Regions from separate parts of the Homo sapiens genome. Here region 2 is linked to region 1. Evidence: fine-mapped expression QTL. A gene starts in region 1. The other region holds a variant in brackets. All regions are shown on one strand. Distances are between the middles of the regions.

What was found. PIP is the estimated chance that this variant, and not a neighbour inherited with it, causes the effect.
Region 2: its variant is fine-mapped to the expression of FIRRM in neutrophils (Naranbhai 2015, PIP 0.94).

What each region holds. Positions count from the first base shown.
Region 1 is chr1:169,789,235-169,798,369 of GRCh38, reverse strand. FIRRM (FIGNL1 interacting regulator of recombination and mitosis) reads right to left here and starts at 3,330. Exons shown (of 25, transcript NM_001320047.2): 1 at 3,255-3,330; 2 at 2,387-2,541. METTL18 (methyltransferase 18, RPL3 N3(tau)-histidine) reads left to right here and starts at 3,463. Exons shown (of 2, transcript NM_033418.4): 1 at 3,463-3,555; 2 at 4,473-5,841. The coding sequence starts at 4,675. The coding sequence ends at 5,793. RefSeq lists an enhancer at 3,411-3,730.
Region 2 is chr1:169,013,724-169,022,858 of GRCh38, reverse strand. All of the region lies in intron 3 of LINC00970 (long intergenic non-protein coding RNA 970), which reads left to right. Among named protein-coding and RNA genes, the nearest start is that of LINC00970, 69 kb to the left of the region's middle. The variant GTGTGGA/A (reference allele first, on the strand shown) is at 5,307.

The sequences.
Region 1 (9,135 bases):
CTTGAAACTGGGAGGCAGAGGTTGCAGTGAGCCAAGATCGCGCCATTGCACTCCAGCATAGGCGAGACTCCGTCTCAAAAAAAAAAAAAAAGAGAGACGGTCTTGCTGTCACCCAGGATGGAGTGCGGTGACATGATCACACCTCACTGCAGCCTCAAGCTCCTGGGCTAAAGTGATCCTCCCATACCAGCCTCTCAAGGAGCTGGGATTAGAGATGCACACCACCATGCCCAGTTTGTACTTCCGATTTCTATTACAAGAAATTTTTCTTTCCTCAACATTTCTATTGTACTTAATTTATACCTAAGTCACTCATCACCTTCTATCTTTTTTCATATTACTTACATACCTATCTTACCAACTTTATTTGACTGAAATTCTTCTGCACATAGCAGCTTACAAATACACGACAATAAATTCTTCATATACACCATCAAGAATAATTGTTAGAATAATTGTTAGAAATGTTTTACTGTAACAACACCATAAGAATCATCAAAGAATGTTAATAAGAAAAATGAATAACCCGGCCGGGCACGGTGGCTCACGCCTGTAGTCCCAGCACTTTGGGAGGCTGAGGCAGGCGGATCACGAGGTCAGGAGTTCGAGACCAGCCTGGCCAACATGGTGAAACCATCTCTACTAAAGATACAAAAAATTAGCCGGGCATGGTGGCACGTGCCTGTAATCTCAGCTACTCGGGAGGCTGAGGAAGGAGAATCACTTGAACCTGGCTGCTGTGAGCTGAGATCGCACCACTGCACTCCAGCCTGGGTGACAGGGTGAGACTCCGTCTCAAAACAAACAAACAAACAAAAAAAAACCCATAGTCCTACCACAGTAATACAAGAATTCATTCCTCTTCCGAAATCTTATTTTTTACAGCAGCAATCAAAATGAGGTCATCATTAACTCAAATTTGAGTTCAGTAGGGTAGAATTGGCCTCATGAAAAAATTTCAGTAAAGCTCAAATAATTACCAGCTGTTCCAAAATTAGTCAGTTATGATTATGCAGACATGCAGGTAAGGCCTGGAAAATAATACGTAAAATGCAAAACATGAAAAAGATTTTGGGGGGTAATGGCATTGTAGATTTATTGCAAATTTTTCATTTGTTAAAATAGTGAAGCTAAAATACTACCATTAAGCTGAAAAAAAGTATTGTCTAATTAGACTCCCAAGTATTTTTAAAACATGAAATATTTTTAGCCCTTTAATGAATGCTTACTATGTGTCAGGCACTGTTCTAGGTGCTGAGGGTAACGCTGTGAAGAAAATCAACATCCTGCCTTTATGAACTTTGCAACATAATGTGTAGAAGTGGAAAATATACAAAGCAAACAAGAGCATTTCTTTTAATGGTAATGTGCTTTTTAGAAAACTGAACAGGCCAATGTGATACAAGTGTAAGACTGCGTTTGGGGGAACTGCCTAAGATTGAAGGCTCTGAAAAAGCCCCTCTAAGGAAGTGACATTTGGGCCAAGACATAAACATGAAATATGCAAAAGGCTGAGAGAACAAATCAGGCTGAGCAAAAAGATCTTGAGGTAGGTGAGCCTAATGTATTCATGAACAGAGTGTAGTTAATTAACTAGGTATGAGAGAAGGGCAAGGCTTAGATCACCTGGAACCTTGAAGGTAAAGTGGTTTAAAAAGGGAAATGACGAGATCTATGTTTTTCCCCTCTTAACTTTTTTGGAATAATGAATTATGAGTAGAAACAAGGAAACTATTAATACTCCAAGTGAGAGGTGATAAGGGTTTGGAATCAGAGTGGTAGCAATGAGGATGGAGATAAACGGATTGATTCAAGACATAGTTTGGAATCAGAAACAATAGAACTTACTGATCGGGTGTGTGAGACAGAGAGGATTCAAGGTTTCAGTTTGTGAAACCATTTACTCAGATGAAGAAAACTAGAGGAAGTTTGGGCTTTTTTGAATATGTCGTTTGAAGTGCAAAGCTAGGTGGGAATGTTGACTTTCAACTTAATGAAGTCTCTCTATAAGCTTGTGGGGAAGAAGAGGAATCACGTTCCGTGTCTCTGTTCTCCCAAAGCCTAACACCATGTCTCACACACATTATGCACGCAGTTTAAGTGTTTTTGAATGTTTTGAGGGTGGCTATTTGTTTTCAAGTTGAAACTCCTTGAAGACGGCAGTTCTGTACCTACACAAAAACTAAAAAAGGGGGCTTTGGCACCTTCTGAGATTTTGCTAATGCCTAGGTGAATGACTTCTATGTGATTACATAGGGCTTTAGCTGCACAATATTTGTGCAGTATTGAGATTCTCTCAAGTGAAGGTTACTTTTTTTCTTTTGAGTGTAATTGTATAAAGCTGGGCTCAAATGTTGTGAAAAAGATACATATACATATGGTTTACCATGAAAGGCTAGGATTCCAGGCACATTTACAACCACAAAGGCATGAGACCAATCAAGAATGTGCTGCACCCGGACGAAGAAGGCGCTAAGCGCCTCAAATCCAACAGTTGAAAGCCAACAACAAGCGGAAGAACTCTTTCAGAAAGACTCCAGCCTGGGTGAGAGGAGTGAGAACTTGTCAAAAAAAAAGAAAGAAAGAAGAAAAAGAGGTCTGAGAGGGGAAGGAGGAAAATCATTTTTATTTACTGAACATCTTTTAAAGATTTCACACCACAGAACTATGCCCTTTAATTCTTATAACGCTAAGAAAGCCCTTATTCATATTCACCACCCTTTTTACGGGAGACAAAAGCTCAGAGTATCTCGCTTTACCTCAAACTATTAAGAGCCAGAGCTATCGTCATACCGCAGGTCTCAGTCCTTGCCTCCCCCATTATCCACTAGCAAAAGTATTTACACTTAATTGCAAGCAACGAGTACAGAAAAACTGAAAGAAGGAATGGAAGAAAACGCCACATCCACTGCTAAAACCTTGGGTCAGAACACGTCCGCGAGGCTTTCCAGGGCCAAAGCCTTACTTAAATCTACCACGGTTGTCGCTTCCCCTCCAGTCCCTCACTTTTCATCCCACTCACTGACAAAGAAAAGAGGGGGTTCAGGCCGCGGTAATATAACCCAGCCTGGCGGTGGGTCTGAAGGGACAGAAGAGAAAGGTTCGCGACCCGCCCACACCCTTCTCTAGGTAGAAGTGACAACCAAGGAAGGATATGAGGAGTCGGGGCAGGACGGACGGCAGTTCCCGGCGGCATAGCTCCTCTGGCCAGCTACTTAATTCTTCCAGGGGAACCGCGCTAGCTGGGACCGCACCTTCCTGAGACATACTTTCGTCAAACAGGAGAGCTTCAAACCAGACCCGCCAAAGCCCAGACCGGAAACTCGCAGTCCCGCCAACCCTTGCGCGCTCTCCGCCGGCTCCAAAACCATAGAGAGGAGGGCGGCTGGTTTCTTGGTGAGCCCGGGTCCCTCAAGGCCGGAAAGAAAGTCGGGCTTCTCTAGCCCCTGGAGGACTCGACTCACTGGTGCGCGATTTAGGTCCGGAGGAGGCGTTGTGAGGTGAGCTTTTTCAGAAGCGCGATCCCAGGACACGTCGGGAAGCAAGCATCCCCAGGTCTGGATCACTGTAAACATTACATTCAAATGGGGAGGTGAGGGCCAGAAGTCCCCACTTCTGGGGTCGGATTTGTTCCGGGACCTGCAGCCGGAAGTGACTCCAAGCCTTGCAGCGTGATGGGAGAGGAAAGAGGCGCGTTCCTAGCCGCGGGACTGGGTGACCCGCCTCTCCCCCAAATTGTAAATCTTGTATAAAGGGAACAAAGATCCCACTTGCCAGAACTGTGAAAATTGAGGCAGATGGTATAGTGTCTAGCGCAGTAGATAGAAGATTCTCAATAAAGTTGCTTCTTATTTCTACAGGTCTCTCCAAACTACTGCAGTGCCCTAGTTTGCGTTTGCTCTGCCACCGAATTAGTCTTTACTAATTATTGCCAAATTACCCCCACTTCTATACACTTAGGGCTGCTGTTCTCGACTAAATGTTTGGAGTGAAGTCTTGGATGAATTTACACACACCAGGCCATACCTATGCATGTTTTTAAAGGGACGCTGACTTACCAAAATAAAATACTGCACCTCTTCTGTAAAAGACAGAAGTGAAGTTATTCTGGAAGCTTAGGGGGTGAATATGGTTGGACACAAATCAAGACAGCTGAAAGACAGCAAGTAGCTAGGCTGTCCTGTCTGAATATCTTGGACTTTATGTTTGTCCAGGTGGTAGTGGTGGTGGTTGCTGTTGTTCTTCTGTTTGTTTTTATAGTTGATTTTCTTCTCCCACTTTGGAACCCTTAAGGTGTGTATGAGTGTCCAAATCTCTTATCTCTCTCTCTTCCCCACAACTTTTTAAGAAAAAGCAGCTGTATGGTGGGACAGGGAGGGGTGGGGGTGGCTGTTTAATATTACACTTTAGTGAAATGTGCCATTTTGCTTTAATCATCATTTTCTTTCTTTTTTTTTTTTTTTTCTTTCCAGAGCTGCTTGGAAAGAGGACCAAAGACGTCTAAAAAGTCATTTGGAAATATCTCTAAATATTTGTTACCATGTATAAGCTGCTAAAGAGAAATTGGGCCCAACAAAACTAATTGAATAATTGAGGCAGATTTGTGTGTATCATCAAATTCTATCCAGAAGTTGAAGAATCTGAATTTAAAGATTGTGTGCATTTAATAAGAGGATGACCTTTCAGTTTAATTTCACTATAGAAGACCATCTGGAAAATGAATTAACACCCATTAGAGATGGAGCTTTGACCCTGGATTCCTCAAAAGAGCTGTCAGTCTCAGAAAGTCAAAAAGGAGAAGAGAGGGACAGAAAATGTTCTGCAGAACAATTTGACTTGCCTCAGGATCACTTGTGGGAACATAAGTCAATGGAAAATGCAGCTCCCTCTCAAGACACAGACAGTCCACTCAGTGCAGCCAGCAGTTCAAGGAACTTGGAGCCACATGGAAAACAGCCCTCCTTGAGAGCTGCCAAAGAGCATGCTATGCCTAAAGATTTAAAGAAGATGTTAGAAAATAAAGTCATAGAAACATTACCAGGTTTCCAGCATGTTAAGTTATCAGTAGTGAAAACCATCTTGTTGAAAGAGAACTTCCCTGGAGAAAACATAGTTTCAAAAAGCTTTTCTTCTCACTCTGATCTGATTACAGGTGTTTATGAGGGAGGCTTAAAAATCTGGGAATGTACCTTTGACCTCCTGGCTTATTTCACAAAGGCCAAAGTGAAATTTGCTGGGAAAAAAGTCTTGGATCTTGGTTGTGGATCAGGTTTACTAGGTATAACTGCATTCAAGGGAGGGTCCAAAGAAATTCACTTTCAAGATTATAACAGTATGGTGATTGATGAAGTAACCTTACCTAATGTAGTAGCTAACTCCACTTTGGAAGATGAAGAAAATGATGTAAATGAGCCAGATGTGAAAAGATGCAGGAAACCAAAAGTAACACAACTATATAAATGCCGATTTTTTTCTGGTGAGTGGTCTGAGTTTTGTAAGCTTGTACTAAGTAGTGAAAAACTTTTTGTAAAATATGATCTCATTCTCACCTCAGAAACCATTTACAACCCAGATTATTATAGTAATTTGCACCAGACTTTCCTTAGACTGTTAAGTAAAAATGGACGTGTACTTTTGGCCAGCAAAGCACATTATTTTGGTGTAGGTGGAGGTGTTCATCTCTTTCAGAAGTTTGTAGAAGAAAGAGATGTTTTTAAGACCAGAATACTCAAAATAATTGATGAAGGATTGAAGAGGTTCATAATTGAAATAACTTTTAAGTTTCCTGGTTAATTAACATTCACTGAGTATCCAAAATGAAATAAACAGAAGGACCAAAAATTTGAGTGTTTGATTTCTGTTTTGCTATTATTTTTTCTGAAATTTTGATGTTGTTTGTTTAGTTTTGTTTATCCAAATTGTAAGTGAGCTATGTTACCAGTCTTTTACTCACTAGGTGAAACTGAGAAGGTATCCTCGTGCATTTGATGAGATCTCCTGGGAAATCATTTTGTAAGAAAATCCGGTATTCTCCATCTTCATTCTATTTGACCTTTTACCACCTTTGACGTTACATGAAATTGTTCCCAGGAAATCCTGCCATTTCTTCTCTCAAGTCTGTGAATTTCTTCCCAGTCTTCGTTAGTTCCTTGTTCACATTAATATATATCACTAAATATTAGGTTGGGGCCTTATGTAAATAGGAAGAGGTTTTTGTTTCGTTTTGTTTTTATATTCATTTACCTTGTATAGTAAGGATCAGAATGCTGAGAATTTAACTAAATTCACATGGAGATGAGGAAACAAAGGGAATCTGTGACAGAGTATAAAAGTAATACAGAGAACTTGTACTACTTGAGGTTTACCCCTTATAGCCAAGTAAAAGATCCTGCGGTCTTGGTAGGAGGAAAAAGAATAAGAAAGGAGAATTCCAGATTTGGGGGAGTATAGACTTACCAGTTGTTAAATAGTAGGAAAGAAAGGAGAAAGTGTTTTGTTGATTCAAATGCAAAAATTTTCACGTTACCACATTGGGAATTGGGATCTGCCTTGCTCTCTATAAGAACAGTAAAACTGACAGCATTTTTTTCTCTCTTGGAAGTAGCTAAAATAATCGGACATCATGGATTCAATTGAATGTGATATTTACTGGACTTTGTATAGTATCTTGCATAATACTTAAAACCTTATGAGGTTTATGTCATCCCCATTTTAGTAGTGATCATAATAGCTAACTAGCATTTACTGTATACAGGGCAGAAGAGCTTTACATATGTTAACATTAAGTATTCATAACTGCCCTATAAGACTTCAAGAAGTTAATTGATTTGCTCCCAATCACATTTCTCACCTTGAACCAGCATCTGAAGGCTTTAAAATCTTTACACTCTTTCATCACCCAGTGGTCTCAACTCTACCAATGCCTATTTTCATCACAAATATTTCTTAGCACCCTCTTACTACGCTAAGATGAAAGTCATAGTTAAGGAAACTTACTTATATACATTATTAAAAAGCATATTCCTAGTTTATGTATAATTATATGTGATACTCATTCACAACTCTAATATGAAGAAAGTAATTTATAATCAAATAATTTATATCTCATCAGATACACATACAGATGTAGCTACACAGAAGACATGCAGCAGCCAGATGCTTATACCTAGCAACAGGGGTCCCTGATGCCTGCGCCGTGGACCAGTACTGGTCCGTGGCCTGTTAGGAACTGAGCTGCACGGCAGGAGGTGAGCGGTAGGCAAATGAGTATTACTGCCTGAGCTCTGTCTCCTGTCAGATCAGCAGCGGTGTTAGATTCTCATGGGAGTGCACACCCTATTGTGAACTGCATGTGTGAGGGATCTAGCTTGCGCACTCCTTGTGAGAATCTAATGCCTGATGATCTGAGGTGGAACAGTTTCATCCTGAAACCACTCCCCTGCCCAGCCCTTCATGGAAAAATTGTCTTCCACAAAACTGGTCCCTGGTGCCAAAAAGGTTGGGGACTGCTAACCTAGAGTACCATTACTGAAAATGCCACAGCTACAATTCCAGACTTACCTACTAGGTAAGGTAGAACAAATTGGCCTTGACAGCTGGATTGGGGAATTGAGGTACAAATCACTGGATAGAGGCTCATAATACATTAATTGGTTTCAATGATTTTGAGACAAATAGGTATCTCTCAATTCTCCAAGAGAATTAGACTTTTAATGAGGTCTCATCCAGGAGGCCCATTCAGGAACAGCAGAGACATAGCCTCTAACTAGGGGCTCAGGACACAATCTCATTTCCCAGGGAGAGGGTCCAGCAAGTGCAGAAAGGATCAAAGCAGAAGCCCAGTCATGGGAACTAGATAATTTGGGGCATTAAAGATAAATTTGGGGCCAGGCATGGTGGCTCACACCTGTAATCCCAGCACTTTGGGAGGCCAAGGCAGGCAGATCACCTGAGGTCAGGAGTTTGAGACCACCCTGACCAACATGGAGAAACCCCTTGTCTACTAAAAATACAAAATTAGGTGGGCGTGGTGGTGCATGCCAGTAATCCGAGCTATTAGAGAGGCTGGGACAAGAGAATCGTGAGAAGCACTTGAACCCAGGAGGCGGAGGTTGCAGTGAGCCGAGATCGCGCCATTGCCCTCCAGCCTAGGCAACAGGGAAAGACTCTCTCAACAAAAAAAGAGAAAAAAAAAAGATAAATGTGGGGGTATCAAACAGCCCAAAGGGAACACACCTACCCAAGATAGCTGGCAGCAAAAGGGACTTGAGACACAAATTATGGCTACAAATCCAGGAAACAGATACGCAGCTTTCTCATGTAACAGTATCATTTAATCATTTAAGGGTTATGATAACTTGGGTTAAAATTCAATTTCTCCATCTGCAAAACAAGATTTATAATATTATATCCCTAGCAGAGTTCCTTGAAGATTAAGAGTTAAGCATTTATCATGGTTCCTATCAAGTTTCCTATGTATAAGTGGAAATTATTATTTTTAATAATTCGTACTATTTATTCACCTATTTTCTGAACCAGATAGGAAGTCCTGCTCACTTTTGTTAAAAATGGTGTTTGTGCCTTTACAGTATACAAATTTCAGTTCAGAACCTGAAGAAACCACTAAGTTCTAAACCTCGCTCTGCCCACCATTAATCTCCACTCTCTCTCATCCCATTCCCCTCCCTACTCCTCACCTCTGCATTCCTAAATTGTCTTTTTTGGAAGCTTTGGTTGCAGATTATTTAGGATGAAGAAGAGTGCGTCTTGTAAATTTGCTTCTAAAACCCAGTCACATATGTGCTATGTTCTGCCTTTAAACTGCCCATTTCTCAGATGTGCCTGTCCTCTAAGTTCCAGTTTTCATGTCCCACAGACGACGTTCTGTCCATGGTTCAGAAACTCATGGAAATGTCTCTGTGCTGACTGAGTTATGACTTCTCTGTGTCAAATGTGATGGCCAGTGACACATCTGCTATAGGGTCTGTGGGGTGGATAAGTGTCAGCGTTTCATCTGGAGAATTAGATTTTCGAGAAGATTAAACCTATCTTCACTTTTCAATGCCGTCCATAGTATTTTCTTCAGGTGCTTACTAAATGGTCATTTGAAAAAGAGGAATAGCAAGGAAACTCTGA
Region 2 (9,135 bases), 780 kb after region 1:
AACCTTTTTTGCTGAGTGGGATTTAAAGAGGTGTGAGGGAGGTAAAAGGGTACTTTGGATATGGGTGACTGGTGTGAGCAAAGCAAAGAGGGAGCACTAAGGGTGACACATGAAGGGTTGAAGAGTCAGTGTAGAAGTGGCAGACCAAATGTGTTGGGAACTACTGGGAGAAAGGATTGGGCATGCAGAGTAGATGGAGATTATAGGTGACCTTGGAAATCAGGCCAAGGACCTCTCATGGATTTTAGGATTGATCTGCAGGCAAAGGTTATCCCTTCAAGTATCCCAGGATTCACTAGCAACAATAATATTTATTTATTTATTTTTGAGACAGAGTCTCAGTCTGTGGCCCAGGCTGGAGTGCAGTGGCATGGTCTTGGCTCACTGCAACCTCCGCCTCCTGGGTTCAAGCAATTCTCTTGCCTCAGCCTCCTGAATAGCTGGTATTACAGGTGCACACCACCACACCTGGCTAATTTTTTTTTTTTTTTTTTTGGTATTTTTTAGTAGAGATGGGGTTTCGCCATGTTGGCCAGGCTGGTCTTGAACTCCTGATCTCAAGTGATCTGCCTGCCTAGGCCTCCTAAAATGCTTGGATTACAGGTGTGAGCTACCATGCCTGGCCATTTTGTTTCCTTTTGTTTTTTTTCAAGTTACGAGGTGACATGGGTATAATAATTCATTGAAAAAAATGTAGTATGAGAGATAAAATATTAGTAAAAGGGGTTTCTAATTATAAGAAGGAAAATCCAACCTGTGTGTGTGTGGGGAACAGAGAATTATTCATTCACTCAGCAAATATTTGCTGAATGCTTACTAAGGGCTGTGTATGGGACCTAGAGATTAGAGAGATGTTACTGGCTCTTGGGACTTTTGATGGACAGGGAGTTTTAGGTGGGCTGAACATCAAGGAGGGCATTCCAGAAGATTGAAGGTCCAATGGCAAAGGTACAGAGGGAAGAATAAATGAAGTGGAAGATTTATTCATGGGGCAGCTGGAAGTGATGCTGCAGAAGAGAAATGAGCTATTATAGGGTTAATGTTGGGCTTTACAAATAAGGCAGAGGAGTTAATCTAGTAAGTCCCCTTTCCCAAGGCAGAAATGTTAGCATCATAATTTAGAAGGTATCTGTCAGAAGATGATGGAATGAAAACCTTGGCATTCATGAAAAGGAATGAGATCATGTCCTTTGCAGGAACATGGATGGAGCTGGAGGCCATTATCCTTAGCAAACTGACATAGGAACAGAAAACCAAATACTGCATGTTCTCACTTATAAGTGGGAGCCAAATGGTGAGAACACATGGACACATAAGGGGGAAGAAAGACACTGGGGACTTTTGGAGGGTGAAGGGTAGGAGGAGGGAGAGGATCAAGAAAAATACCTAAAGGGTACTAGACTTAATACCTGGGTGATGAAAAAGCTGCACAACAAACCCCTATGACACAAGTTTCCCTATGTAGCACACCAGCATTTGTACTCTTTTTATTTTAAAATAAAAGTTTTAAAAAAACCTTGGCATTCTAAGAGTTAACTTATTTATATCAAACACACTACACTCACCAGCCCATAAGATAACCAAGCTATAACACACACTTGGTCATCTTCTCTTAAAAAAATACTTTAAAATACAAAATAGTCATCCTTGTAAGGAATTAGAAATACTTGAGGAAAATTGTAAAATACTATACATATAATTAAGCCTGTTGGCATTAACTTCAATTTAAAGGAGTTCATAAAAACAAAATCAGTTCTTACTTTTTTTTTATGTATTTATTAATTTTTTTTAGAGGCAAGATTTCACTCTGTCACCCAGACTGGAGTGCAGTGGCACAAACATAGCTCACTGAAGCCTCAAACTCCTGGGCTCAAGAGATCCTTCTGCTTCAGCCTCCTGAGTAGCTGGGACTTCAGGTATGTGTCAGAATGCCTGGCTAATTTAATTTTTATGTATTTATGTATTTATTTATTTATTTATTTATTTATTTATTTATTTTTTAAGAGATGGTGTCTCACTATGTTGCCCAAGTTAGTCTGGAACTCCTGACTTCAAGTGATCCTCTTGTCTTGGCCTCCCAACATGCTGGGATTACATGAGCCAGTATGCCTAGCCTTAATATTTCTTTTTTTAAAAAGGCACTTGTATTGTCTAACACCTATGGCTGGAGAATGAACATTTGGTCAAGTTTTGACCTCAGAATATAAGTGTCTATCTAGTTAGATCAAGATGGGCATCACATTTCAGGAGACTGGTGGGTTTCTTCTAGATGAAAAGGTCCTTGGAGACCCTCTATTCTAACTGTCTACATCCCAGAGGAGAGACTTGTCCATCAGAGAGCACCTGCCATCCTCCCAGATTCAGGCAGTTACCTGGAGAGCAGAATCGGGCCACTCCTGGAGCCCACCTGTTGCTTGCATAGTCCAAGACAGTTGAGTTCCAAACTCGAGCATTTAAAATATCAAATTCTGAGGAGATATCAAATTCTGAGGAGAATTTCCTCAGAGTTTCGTGTGCCACAAAGTGCCCTCCTGAGAATGGACATCAGTATTTCCCAAAACCTCCCCCAGAAGCTCCTGGGCTGGTTATTTTTAAAAAGTACAGATTTATAGGACCCCGCACATGCCTAAAGAATCAGAACCCTGGAACATGGACTAGAAATCTGTATTTTCACGAGCATGTGATTTTTATTTACACTCAAGTTTGATGACCACTAGCCTAGGACAAGTGCAGATTTTTGCAGTTGCCTCTGACAATTAGTCCTCTCCCTAACACCCTGCTGGGTCTCCCAGCTGACTCTCCTGTGGCCTTACTTTCTGTCCCTGACTCTTCATCTTTTGACTGCCTGAGCGTTTTTCCTCTTCCTCTTCTCTCCCCTTCTCTTTGCTGCTCTTTTGTGCTTTCATTATTTGTCTCTCTTTTCTTCTTTCTCTGTTTTTTATTTCCTCTTTCCCTTGCTCTCTGTCCCACCCAGCCCATTCCAAAGTGGTGCTGGGATATGCAGGAGGAGCCAAAGGCAATGAGTCGAGCCCAGGTGCTCAGAGAGCTGAGTTCTGATCAGAGAATGCAGTTCAGAACACACCTGGGGGGCTCAGAGACCCCGAAGCTAGACTGCAAGGATATGGAGAGCTCAGCTCAGAGGATGGATGGGGTGGTGGGGAGAGGGAAGGGTGCAGATTTATGACATGGGAAATTCCCTGAGGAAGCAGATCAAGGAGCCCAAGGCACTGGCAAAGCAGGGCAGGGAGCCCCATGAGCACCTGTCCCCTACCTTCCCTGTGACCTGGGTGTGGGTGAGCTAATAAGCTACTGGGAAGCAGGTGTACACTGTTGCATAGACACTCCCCCACACCTTCTCCTGAGCACTTACTCTGAGAAACTTTGTGTGTCCTCCATTTGGCAGACTTGAGACTTTTTAAGAAAACAGTTAATATATCTTACAGGTGAGGAATCTTAATCCTGCAGGAAGGGAGGCTTTCCCCAGATGTCCCTCACACAAAGATACAGAAGTCAGAATTCCCAGTGGGAACGTATCTTGGGCAAGATTGAGAAACAGTCAAAGCTTTGTCCAGTATAACCTAACAAGCTGGCATATCAGCATTTATACTTGGTGTCCGAGCATATGCATGTGTGCACTTACACTCTGGCACAGAGAAAGCACTCAGTGCATTTTCGGTATTATTTTTTATTATTAGGAAATCGTCTTGTATTTGCTGTATTGCCTGTATTTATCATGATTTCCCTTTAAGGTAGGTTATAGATTTGGCCTTTTGGATGTCTCACAAGGAGGTCTTTGTGGCAGAACACCTGGAAGGATGATTGCAGGCAATTTCTCCCTCCCCTGGAGAGCACAGATGCCACCCTGTTGGGTGCGGACTGGGTTCTTAGGAGGCCCAGGAAGTGCTGTTGCTTCTAAACCCTCTGTTTGGCGGTTTCCTGCACCTGTTGCAGGAGGTGTGGCACATTTCATAAGCTCCAGGGGGCAGGACGGCACCTGGGAGAGCTCCTGAAGGGTCCTCACCTGGGAGCTCTCATTTGCCCGGTACTCCCACCCCCAAACAGTGCTGTCTGTGAGAAGGTGCATCAGTGGATGGGTGTCATGGCACCTGAGGCCTGAACTTGGGGTGACTCTCCTTTCTTGTTGGTCTGAATAAGGCAGAAACCAACTCCATTTCCATATTTCCTTTCTTTGAATTCCCAGTATTCCCCTCACCCCAGATAGCTGTATTCTTTAAGACTGGGACAGCCCTGGGAGTAGGGGCTGCCCTGTTGTCCCTGCCCCACCTTCCAGGGCAGAGAATTTTACTAGACATTTCTTGCAGATGCTGTCTCTGAATTTGAGTCGGAGTTTCCTGACCCTTTGCAAGCTGCATTTTAGAATCAGAGGGTATGTGGCCTTAGCAAACCTTGAGACCCATCCTCTCCTTCTACCTTTCTCCACCACCACTCAGCATCACTCATCACCCCTTGTGCTTCCATCCTTGCTTGCTTTTCTTCATGCTCTCTTCTCCACTTGAAATATTCTTGTTCACTTTCTTTTCTGTTCATCTTCCAGTCAAGGCCCAGCTCAGAATAAATTTCAGAAGCTTTCCCTGTCTCCCTCTGCTCACTGCCCTCTCCATCCAAGCAGAAAGAACCTGCCTGTCTTCTGTGATCTGCTGCCATTGCACACACCCCTGTGACGTTCTCCTATTGCCTCATTAGATGTTTACACCTGTGCCTCCCCCAGGTAGGACTGGGGTGGGGTTGAATGAGAGCTCCATAGGTCTTTTAATGGTGTCCCCAAGGCCAGCCTCAGGGCTTCAACACAGTGAGCTCTCAGGAATGGCTGCATTTTATTCTGACTGTGTTTCCAGAATCCCAGTCCTCTCTCTCTCACTGACCCCGAAGATAAGCATTGGAAAGGGGAGCTTTGGGGAAATGAATCTGCCCTGTCATCTGCGTATAGAGCTAATCTTAAATCCCAACTGCCAAATGGATCCTGAGGTGTCAGAAACTCTCCCGAGATAAGGGGGCTTCTAGCAACCATCTGCATTCTGGACCCAGGTATGTTGTGTTTGTAATCTCATTCACTCACTCGTTCATTCTTCCATGCCTCCCCTGATCCCCTTCCTGAAGTAAGAGCCTTCTGTTGATGTCGATGAAAGAACCCTGTTTATTTTCTTCAACTGAGAGTCTAACACACTGTGCCCTGGGCAAGGTTGAGAATCAGCCAAAGCTTGTCTTCTTTGTCCAATATAATCTAATAAATGGGTGTGTAACCACTTGTACTTTGTGTACATGTGTGTGTGTGGGTGTGGGTGTGG[GTGTGGA/A]CCTGATATTCTGGCACAGAGTGAGCACTCTCAAATATTAATCTACAATTATTTCTCTACTACTAATAGATCATGATCTATAATGACTCAATAATCTATAATAATAATAAATCTGTAATTATAATTATCTACAATTATTTATCTACTTGGTATTGTCTGTCTCACCCCTATTAGGATACAGACTCCTTGAGGTGACAGATTCATACTCTCAGGCCTTTTTACTCTTGTACCCTCGGCACCAAGTACAGTGCCTGGTCCAATATTTGTGGAATGAATAAATGAATGACCAGACTTTCATTTATTTGCACTATGTCTTTGTGTGTCAGACTTGGGGTTAGGGACAGGAGATACACAAGAAATAAGACATAGCTTTTATTTTTCAATAGCCTCATTTGCAAGTGGGGGAGGCAAGTTACAGTTACAGTGCACAGTGATAACTAAGGATATAGCAGAATACAGGGGTTACGAGAGGATGGAGGACCAGTTCAGACTAAGGAGGAGGTGGATGTCCGGGAAGTTTGATATTTGGGTTGAGTCCTGGAAGGGAGGAAAAGTTGGCCAGGCAAATGAGGTTGGCAAGGACATTCTAGGGAGATGAGGCCATGTGTACAAAAGCCCAGTGAGAATGGAAGATGAAAGGATGTGGGGCAGTAGCTGGAGCCTGGTGTGCAAGGGAGCCCCAGGACGAGCTGGCCCCTTGGCAGGGCAGTTGGCTGTCCCTGCATGGTCGAGTGCTGGGGCTTTACTTCCTCTGGCTCTGGGCCAGCATGCAGACTTCAAGGTGGGGAGCAGCCTGCCACAAGAAAGTAAAATGTTGCATCCCTCGATGACCCCAGTTCCTGGCTCCACATGTTTCTGTTTGCTTTATTCTGGGGAGGCAGAAGAGAGACAGGTTTGGGGTAATCCTGCCCAGTGACCTCTGGGTTGAGAAGTGTAGAGAGCACCAGGCTCTCTCTGTAGGGTGAAACGCTCTGAGAAAGCCATTTAGGGAAGGGCCATGGCTGCTGTTTTGAGAACTGTGCTGTTTGCAGCAGGAGTAGGAGAAAGGGAGAAGAAGGACACAGGAACTTTGGGAAGCACCCTTTCAAGACTCTGTGGGTCCCATAGCTAGTGCATTGTGAGGTTTGAGATGCCAGGGAGTCAGGGTGATAGCCAGCCTGGCTTTTCTCTGCCTCCTTTTCTTCCTACTTTCTTCCTTTAATTAATTCTTATAGAGTGTCTGTTGCATGCAGGGTAGTGTTCCAGTCACTGAATATTTGACATTGAGCAAAGCAGTCAAAGTCCATTGCTTTTTGGGAGAGGGGATCAGGGATGGCCTCACTGAAACAGGGACATTTGAGCAGAAACCTGAATGAATCAAGGGAGACCTGTGGGTCTCTGGGCAAAGTGTGCAACTGTTAAACAAAGGTGTTGCACTCTAAGCAGGTATCTGGTTTAGCAGGGAGAAGACGGCTGAAAATAATCTCCCACTCCACAAGTGACAGAGAAATCTAATAGAGTGGGGATAATATTTAGAGAAAATAATTGAGCATTTTTCTCTTTTTGCAATCCCTTGCCATCCTTGAACTTACCCTCTATTCATTTAGTAACCTGATTGTATCAGGTGAGATTTCAACAGTTGAGATTGTATCAGTTGAGGTGTCCACCTATTGACAGTAATGAGTTACATTCCTGGCTTTCGTATTCCAAAATAGATTGCTTTATTCTTATAATTTTCCTGTAAAGTAGGTATAATTACGTCCATTTCTGAGGTAGGAATCAGGGCTTAGATATTCTTAAACTTGAAGCAGAAACAGTTATCTTAAGAGCTGAGGTTTTGATTTGCAAGAGTCAAATCCCTTTTAATAATCTGTTTGAAACCAGCAGATAGAGAAATGCTGAGCCAGCAAAAGCCCTGCTCCCTCAGAGACCAGTTCAGGGTGGCTGGGTGGGGAGAGAGGAGAGTTAGTTAGATGGGAACAGGAGACCCCAGAGCCAAGTTCGGTGGCTGTGGAAGGGGCCTCTGAGTCTGGCCTCCCACTCTGGGATGAAACGACGTGAGGCGCTAGGAATCTGAGAGCCAAGGCCACCTTTTGCTGTAGGAGGTGGCCACCATGCCTCTGGAGGTGGAGTAGAGGGAGAGAGAGGGCTGTATGGGTCTTGGTAGCTGGGGAGATACAGCCCTTCTGAGTCTCCCTCCTCCTGTCTCGATGGCACATCAGGAGGAAGGGCCCAAATAATCTCCTGGGTGGTTAAGAAGGGCTCAAAGTTAACCAAGTGATGGGCTGTATACTTTGAAACCTGGATGAGGCAGAAACAGAGAGACCCAGATGCACCAAGGGCTAAAATCCAAGAGTCTTAGATTTTCCAGCAAGTGCTGGTGGGGACAGGTGTCCATGAATGAATGAGGGTAGCATGGATGGCTGCCAACAAGCAGAGGTCCCATGTGTCCCAGGCCATCATGCCATGCAGACCCCTAGAATGTAGATGCCACCTAAGGGTGAGGAAGATGGGGGAGCGGAATATGGAAATGATCATGTTTAAATTTGAAGTGACCAGTGTTTTTACCTCAGGGGACGTGATCAAGTTTCTGCCAATAGGCAGAATTGGTGCATAAAACAGAAGTTGAGTTACAGAAGAGTAAAGAAAGTTATTATCGTTATTATTTTGCACATTTGGATCATGTAACTTGCAAATTGAGTATTTTCAGCAGCCATACTAATGTTGATTAGGTAGCAAGCAGATATGCAAAGAGCTATCTGGGAGATTTTCCAGCTAAAAATCACAATTATCAGTTGAGTCTTATGAACCCAGAAAATGTGGTAAACTCTCCTCAAAAGAAAGACGTGAGAAATTCCTTAACTTAAAAGCCTGTGGTTCAAAGAAGGGCTGAGAAGTCTGTCTCCTCCTTGCCTTTCTAGAAATATTGCAGTTAGCATGGCATCTCATCTTACTCAAGCAGCCTGCCCAGTCTAGAGTCTTCGAAATTCTCGGCACAGGCTCCTGTGTGATGCTCTCTGGGAATGTTGACATTCTCAGGGGAATGTCTATGCCAGGGGTTTTGGAATAAGGCACAGGGGAAGTTTCTGGGCTAGAATGGAGTGTGGTCTGAGAGGCCAGGTAGGGTGTAAAAAAAGAGAATTTAGAATTAGGTTTTGGCTTTCCTGTTTCCTGGCTCTGTGACCTTTGTAAAGTTACTTTACCTTTCTAAGCTTCTGGTCAATCATCTTGAACATGGACATTATGCCTATTTTTATAGAGATACTATAAAAATAAAATGACGTAATATATTCGTTTGCCAGGGCTACCATAACAAAATACCACAGACTGGGTGGCTTCAGCAACAGAAATTTATATTCTCATAGTTCTGGGGGCTGGGAGCCCAAGAAACAAAGTGTTGGCAGGTGTGATGTCTTCTGAGGCCTCTCTCCTCAGGTTGCATAAGTCCACTTTCTCACTGTGTCCTCACATGGCTGCTCCTCGGACTGTGTGTTGTCTATGTCCTAATCTTATAAGGACACCAGTCATATTGGATTAGGGCCCACCCATATGGCTGCATTTTACTTAATTACTTCTTTAAAGGCCCCATCTCCAAATACAGTCACATTCCCAGTTACTGGGCATCAGAGCGTCCACGTACAGAGATGGAGGGCTCACAGTTCAGCCCATGGCAGGTAGCATATGAAAGGGCTCAGCACACACGAGGTGCTTAGTCAATGTTAGCTCCCCTCACCATTTCTTCAGGCTGTAGTATGAGATTCAAACTATTAATGACATTTACTCTAAAGCGATGTTCACCTCTTAGGCCGCCTGTGGGCAAGGGGCTTGGAGGCAACACAATGAA